Homo sapiens: one gene and its partner. The protein of the gene in region 1 purifies or fractionates together with the protein of each later gene. This does not show direct contact. Each region holds a gene or a part of one and is shown on either strand. Other genes may lie near its edges. The genes, in order: DOC2B and POTEF.

Region 1 (3,821 bases):
GAGGGGAGACCGGGGAGGTGAGCATGGAGAGTCAAGGGGGTGGAGGTGAGGAAGGACCCTGGCTTTCACTCTGAGTGGCCACGGGAGGGTGCTAAGCTGAGGGATCATGGGGGATGACATTTTACCAGGCTCGCTGGCCTGGGCTCAGGATGGCTTGAAGAAGAGGGAGGAGAGGGCAGGAGGCCTGGGGAGATGGGGAGAGATGGGCACAACCCTGGCCTGACCTTGGCAGCGGTAGGAGGGCTTGATTCTGAACCAGATGTGCAGGCAGCAGATAGGACGTCCTTGGGTGAGGGAAGGGCAGATCCGAGGTTTGGGGCCTGAGCCACTGAAGCCTGAGGGGCTGTTTGCTGCACTCAGAGGACTCAGCAGGGACCACGGGTGGACAGGACGCGCAAGGAGCACGCTTGGAACATGTTAGACCTGAGTGCCTGTGAGATACGCAGAGGAGACAGCAGAGTATCCTTTCCTAGAAATGGCATTTGTCTCAACGTTATGTCAGAACAGATTTGCCCTCGGCCTGCTCCAGCAGCTACGCCCTCTGAGTCTTGGTCTCTATGTCCCTCTTCCCTCCCCCATCCTCCCTTGTCTATGGCCTCACCTTCACCTGGTTCATAGGGCTGGTGAAGCCAGGAGTCCCCCGTGCCACTGGGGTCAAGAGAAATCCTGGGGCCTCAGCCTCCCAGCGTTCAGGACACAGGCGGAGGCATGGTCCCCTCGATGGCACGTTGTCCCCCTAAGAGGACTGGGCAAGGGGCAAGTTTGGGAGGACAGAGCCCGGCGGCTGTCCCCAGTGTACCCAGCCCCAGTGGGGCCCGGGGACGTGGACTCACCTCGAGCTTAGCCCAAGTCAAGCCCCGGGGGCGAGTCAGCCTGAGGCCACGGCTTCTTCCCAGAATCCCAGTTACTTTTGCAGAATTTGATCCAATTTTATTCCTTGTCACATTCTCTCCCCCTCAGACATTTGTGTGATGGATATAACCTTTCCTGTTTTATTGTTAGTCACTAACCACAGGTAACCCGGTTTTTCCACATGGTCTATGTCACTTAAGAAAGGCAACATCTTAGGAGGCCAAGGCAGGTGGGTCATGAGGTCAAGAGTTCGAGAGAGCCTGGCCAACATGGCGAAACCCCGTCTCTGCTAAAAATAAAAAAATTAGCCGGGTGTGGGGGTGCATGCCTGTAATCCCAGCTACTCAGGAGGCTGAGGCAGGAGAATCGCTTGAACCTGAGAGGCGGAGGTTGCAGTGAGCCGAGATTGCACCGTTGCACTCCAGCCTGGGTGACAAGAGCAAGAGCAAGACTCTGTCTCAAAAAAAAAAAAAAAAAGCAACACCAGCCCTGCCTTAGTGTTCCTGAGTTTTCATCACTGGCATAAACAAACAACCACGTGGGTATGTACGTGGGGTGTCAGCGTGTGTGTGTGTGTGCTCGTGTGTGAATTGTGTGTAAGAGCATATGTCAGTACGTGTCTGTGTGCGACAGTGTGTGTGTCCACATGTGTGGTGTGCGTTCGTGAAAGCATGTGCGTCCCTGTGCGTGGCCATGATCAGGGCGTTGCTGGATGCGCTACCGGCCCATTGGTGCCGTTCAGGGACTCACAGTGACCGCAGGAGTGCAGCTGGGGATGCACCCCTGACAGTACAGCCACATTCTGGTGGTACTTTTATTATTATTATTTTTTGAGACTGAGTCTTGCTCTGTCATCCAGGCTGGAGTTCAGTGGCAAAATCTCTGTTCACTGCAACCTCTACCTCCTGAGTTCAAACAATTCTCATGCCTCAGCCTCCCGAGTAGCTGGGACTACAGGCGTGTGCCGCCACGCCTGGTTAATTTTTGTATATTTGGTAGAGATGGGGTTTCACCATATTGTCCAGGTGTCTCAAACTCCTGACCTTGAATGATCCACCTGCCTCAGCCTCCCAAAGTGCTGGGATTACAGGTGTGCGCCACCACGCCTGGCTAATTTTGGTATTTTTAGTAGAGACGGGGGTTCGCCATGTTGGCCAGGCAAGTCTCAAACTCCTGACCTCCAGTGATCCTCCTGCCTCGGCCTCCCAAAGTGCTGGGATTACAGGCATGAGCCCCTGTGCCAGGCCTCTGGCGGTAGGTTTTAGAATTTACAGTCTGCGAACATTATCTGTTTTAAGTCAATACTGAGCAAGACCCAGTGGTCTTCATATGAAACAACCCGAAGTACAATGTCCCACCCCTGAAAAAAGAGCTAAAAATATGCCTGCTGGTTGGTTGTTTTTTTTTTTTTTTTATGAGATGGAGTCTATGTCGCCCAGGCTGGAGTGCAGTGGCGCAATGTCGGCTTACTTCAACCTCCGCCTCCCGGGTTCAAGTGATTCTTCTGCCTCAGCCTCCCAATAGCTGGGATTACAGGCATGCGCCACCACACCCGGCTAATTTTTGTATTTTTAGTAGAGATGGGGTTTCACCATGTTGGCCAGGCTGGTCCTGAGCTGCTGACCTCAGGTGATCTGCCCGCCTTGGCCTCCCAAAGTGCTGGGGTTACAGGCATGAGTCACTGTGCCTGGCCCCTGCTAGTTTATATTGTTTAATTTTCACACCACACACACTGACACAAGCAGCACAGGGCATCAAGGCCCTCACACACAAAGCTCTGCCTGAGCGGCAGATAGCGAGATCTCGCAGGCCTGGCCTGATCCACCAGGAATGGCTGCCTGAGCACTGTGTTGAAAAGGATTCTGAGGTGGCATTGGAGCCTAGGGCAAATGCTAGGATCGATTAGCCATGTCTGCTCTGGGCGTGGGAGGTGGCGAAGGTGGCTGGTGGGGCATGTATGTCTTCCCTGCTCAACATCCCTGCTCACCTCACAGGAGTCTCATCTCCAGAAAGGGTTAGATGTAGCCAGAGGGACTCACTTTGGTGTTAGGCAGGGCACGGTTGTGGGCAAAAGGAGGTGGCTGGGGCTGCTTGGGAGAGGAGCCTGGTAGAGTCCTAAGGGGATCCAGGGGGACACAGGGCTCAAGCTGGGCGTGTGTGGGTGGGCTCAAGCTGGGTTTGTCTGGGGGGGCTGAGGGCCTAGGAGAGAGGGTTTGGGGTGTGCAGCAGCCAGAAGGAAGAAGCCGGGTAGTCTCGGGAGGGCAAGGAATGGAGAAGCATCAGGCTGGCTGGGGATGGGGAGGCCTGGAGCTGAGATCTGCCTTGAGAGGCAGGCACTGGCAGCTGCTGAGGCAGGGAAGGCACTGGATGGGCTCCCTACTTGGCTCCCAGCTTCTCCAGGGTGAGGAATGTACCAGAACTCTGTCTTCGGGGTTCTCCTGAGGGAGCCACATCCAGCACCCTGAGAGGCTCCAGGTAGCACCTTCAGGGAACTGGGGCCACGGTGACCCTTTTCCATCCACCAGGCTCCATTGTCATGGGCAGACCTTTCTGCCTTTCTTTGAACCTCCAGGCTGGAGTTGCTTGTATGAGGTTGAACGCACAGGGGACCATCTGTCCCTCCATTCCTGCCTTCACTAGTACAAGCCTCCAGTGGGCCCTTAGTGCCAGGGCCTTGCCCAGCCCTGAGGTATTAAAGATGACGCAGGTATTATCTGGATGCGGTGGCTCATACCTGTAATCCCAGCACTTCAGGAGGCTGAGGTGGGTGGATCACTTGAGGTCAGGAATTCGAGACCAGCCTGGCAGACATGGCAAAACCCTGTCTCTACCAAAAAATAGAAAAATTAGACTGTAGTCCCAGCTACTCAGAAGGCTGAGGCAGGAGAATCGCTTAAACCCGGGAGGCAGAGGTTGTAGTGAGCCAAGATCATGCCACTGCACTCCAGCCTGGGTGACAAGAGTCAGAC
Region 2 (3,821 bases), on another chromosome or scaffold:
GCTCACGCCTGTAATCCCAGCACTTTGAGAGGCTGAGGCAGGTGGATCACGAGGTCTGGAGATCGAGACCATCCTGGCTAACATGGTGAAACCCCGTCTCTAGTAAAAATACAAAAACTTAGCTGGGCGTGGTGGTGGGTGCCTGTAGTCCCAGCTACTCGGGAGGCTGAGGCAGGAGAATGGCATGAACCCAGGAGAGGGAGCTTGCAGTGAGCCGACATCCACCACTACACTCCAGCCTGGGTGACAGAGCGAGACTCCATGTGAAAAAAAAAAAAAAAAAAATTTTAATAGATTCTTAAAATTTATTGTAATAAAATCAGCAACCTTATTAACAGAAGAATCAATAGATTCTAATTTAATATTTGATATTTAACTTCAACATAACCCACTATAAAATTTAAAATACTCTTATTTTAAAATATTCTTATCTGCCTTCTTGATTAGCTTATAGCTAATCTCTCCTTTTGGAATAGAGGCAAAAACAAATTTCAGAACTTTGTTTGTTCTTTTATTTTTACAACACCCTAACATGATAAAGAAAGTAACATCAATGATTGAATCATATTATTAAGCAATAGGAATTATGAACAATGTAACACTGATTCCCTGAGCTGGATTCATGGTTAAAGAGTAATCATGGCCTGTGATTGAAAATCCACAGTTTTATATTGTCAGTCACTGATACCAAGGTTAAGGACATATCCTGCCTTGTGGTCTCTCGTTGACCTCAGTGTTTCTGTTCAGGGAGGGAACCAGGTCATAAAAGCAACCCAACTGCCTATTACAAGAACCATATCTTGCAGAATGGGACCTTTGGTGTTAGTGCACAAACACAATAACATTCTAATTTATTTCAGTTGCAGAAAATCAGTAGAGATTAAAAAATTTTATCTGCTGTCATTAGTACACATTAGAATATATTAGAACTGGACTTACGCAGATAATCTGGATACATAACACTATCATATGACAGTATATAATTTCAATTAAAATGTGAGAATTTGCATTTCTTTCTGTTTGGTGTTGATTTCGGCTCCTAATAGTTTAAAGGGTGCCTACAATCCAGTTAGGAATCTTTTAAAAAAGCACTTCAGTGCACTGTAGGTGCTCACTAGTTAGGGTTTCATGAGGTAAACTCTTTTCAAGTGAGGAAGATTTTGGAACACTACAAATCATCTGCTGATTCATTTTTGGTAGATTTAACACATAACAAATTAAATTTAGTCCAAACAAATAGTGAGAAAGTTAAGTTTGCTGGTTCATGTTTTTCTTCTCCCTTTGTCTAAGGTGAATTATTTTTCACATGTTAGAAGCCAGTGATGTGGCAGTAGCTAAACATAGATTAAAAAGTTAATTCTTAATTTTAATTATTATTTATTTTAACAGTTTAATTTTAATTACTTTCTAATTTTTATTGTCCATACTTGATTACTTCAGAATAAAATTATTTTAAAAACATGCACTCCAAAAGAGGAAATGTCACAGAAATACAACAAGCAAATTAACCTTCTGTTTTTACATCTGCAGAAAAGATCTCAAGAACCAGAAATAAATAAGGATGGTGATAGAGAGGTATACCTTTATATTCAAACGTTTGTGTTGAATTAGATTTTTACATTATGTTGTTTAACAAAGTGTAGTAAATGTAGGCATACATGATCCTATCATGTAAGTAGCATAAATCATCAGTGAAAAATTAAATAGTTAACTCAGAATTCTGTACATTGAATTTTGAAGAGGTGCAAACCCTAGAGCTATTCTTTCATTATTATGGAATAATCCCGAATGGTGCCATAAAATGCTAGGTAATGCCACTTTAGGAGCTTTAGACCAATTATTTTATCTTTCTTGGTTTTAGTCTGATTATCAATAGATAATGTGCCTAAAGTAGATAATTTCTTATTCTCTGTATTTTCCAGCTAGAAAATTTTATGGCTATCGAAGAAATGAAGAAGCACAGAAGTACTCATGTCGGATTCCCAGAAAACCTGACTAATGGTGCCACTGCTGGCAATGGTGATGATGGATTAATTCCTCCAAGGAAGAGCAGAACACCTGAAAGCCAGCAATTTCCTGACACTGAGAATGAAGAGTATCACAGGTAAGCCTATGGCAACATTGAACAGGAGGTAACTTTGTGCTGCCAAACTAATCCTAATTTGAGCTAATATTCATGATGAACAAATTTTATACTTTTATTAGGATATTGAGCCTTGCCTGTTAATCAGAAAAATGAAAATCAGCAAACAATCAGTTACCGTTTTTTTTCCAGTCATTAATTTATTTGAAAAATAACCAGTATTGGCAAATGTGAGGGAAAAGACATTTTCTTCTCTTTTCAGTGAACTTTTATTTTAGCTTCGGGGTACGTGTGCAGGTTTATTATATAGGTAAACTGTATCATGGAGGCTTGGGGTACAGATTATTTCACCAGCCACATAGTAAACAAAATACTCGAAAGGTAGTTTTTTGGTCGTCTCCCTCCTGCCATGCTCCTCCCTCAAGTAGGCCCCAGTGTATGTTATTCTCCTCTTTGTGTCCATGAGTTCTCATGTTTAGTTCCCACTAATGAGTAAGAATATGTGGCATTTGATTTTCTGTTCCTGCATGAGTTTTCTTAGGATAATGGCCTCCAGCTCCATCCGTGTTGCTGCAGGGGAAATGGTTTCATTGAAAAAGACATTTCATATACTGTTGGTAAATACATTTTGAACATTAATTGAGTAGCATATTCACACACACATATATAACAGTAAGCATATATAATACATGTAAAGGATATTTGTATAGATATGTTATATGTATACTTATGTATAAGGACATTTATTATAGTATTATGTAAAAAATTTGGAGCTAGTCTAATTCCTTATCAATAGGAAATAGCTCAATTTCCATATCCCCAAAATAATGTATTATGCAACCATTTTTAAAAAATGAGGTTAGATGTAGGGTATACTGATTATTTCACAATTAAAATGTATTTAAAGCGTTTAGTTTGATGACACATCTTAAGAGTTCTTGTTAAATTTCTTGTAATATCTGCTGTGTTGCAAATGGAAGCTACATGCTACATTGACACTGTACCTTGTTAGCAACAAGATTGCTAGTTACTAAATTTTTGTTGTCAGTGCCTGAGTGCTGAAATATTGGACCCTCAATCTGAATATTGCCAAGCGATTGTACATGGGGATCTATATTTAATATAAACATTTCAGTATATTTGGTAAAACTTTTATTAAAATACATCAAAGAATCTTTGATCTACTAAACCAGGAGTTGGCCAGCTTTTTCTGCAAAGAGCTAGTTAGTAAATATTTTAGGCTTTGTGGACTACATATATTGATTTTCTTGAGACAGGGTCTCACTCTGTTTCCCAGGCTGGAGTGCAGTTGTGTGATCATGGCTGACTGCAGCCTCGACTTTCTGGGCTCTAGTGATCCTCTGACCTCAGTCTCTACTAGCTGAGACCACGGGTGTGCAACATCACACCCAGCTAACTGACACTATGGACTGTAAAGTGAATAAGCATGGCTGTGTTCCAAGATACTTGACTTACAAAAACGGGCAGTGGGCTGGATTTGGCCCACAGGTGCTTATTTGCTGACCCTTGTGCTAAAAGGAAGGTGCTGCTAATGCAGTGACTTTTATTTGTAAAAGTGCCCTGCATGTGTGACATTATCCTCCCTTTGAGAAAAGGATATATTTCAGTATTTACCTCACCATATTTTTCCAGTGACTTCATATGATTTTGAAAACTACATTTATAAAATAAGATTATTTTCTGCATTTCTCCCACTTTATTCCTGTTAATAGAACTC

What was found.
Region 2: the proteins of DOC2B (region 1) and POTEF purify together in Homo sapiens (affinity purification with mass spectrometry; one large-scale study listed by BioGRID and IntAct). This does not show direct contact.

The regions. Positions count from the first base shown.
Region 1 is NC_000017.11:157,487-161,307, reverse strand, and holds part of DOC2B (double C2-like domain-containing protein beta), read left to right. Parts: intron 1-360; coding exon of another isoform or gene 361-618; exon of another isoform or gene 619-979; intron 980-3,821. UniProt on the Homo sapiens protein: Calcium sensor which positively regulates SNARE-dependent fusion of vesicles with membranes. Binds phospholipids in a calcium-dependent manner and may act at the priming stage of fusion by modifying membrane curvature to stimulate fusion.
Region 2 is NC_000002.12:130,084,097-130,087,917, reverse strand, and holds part of POTEF (POTE ankyrin domain family member F), read left to right. Parts: intron 1-1,530; coding exon 1,531-1,575; intron 1,576-1,922; coding exon 1,923-2,104; intron 2,105-3,821.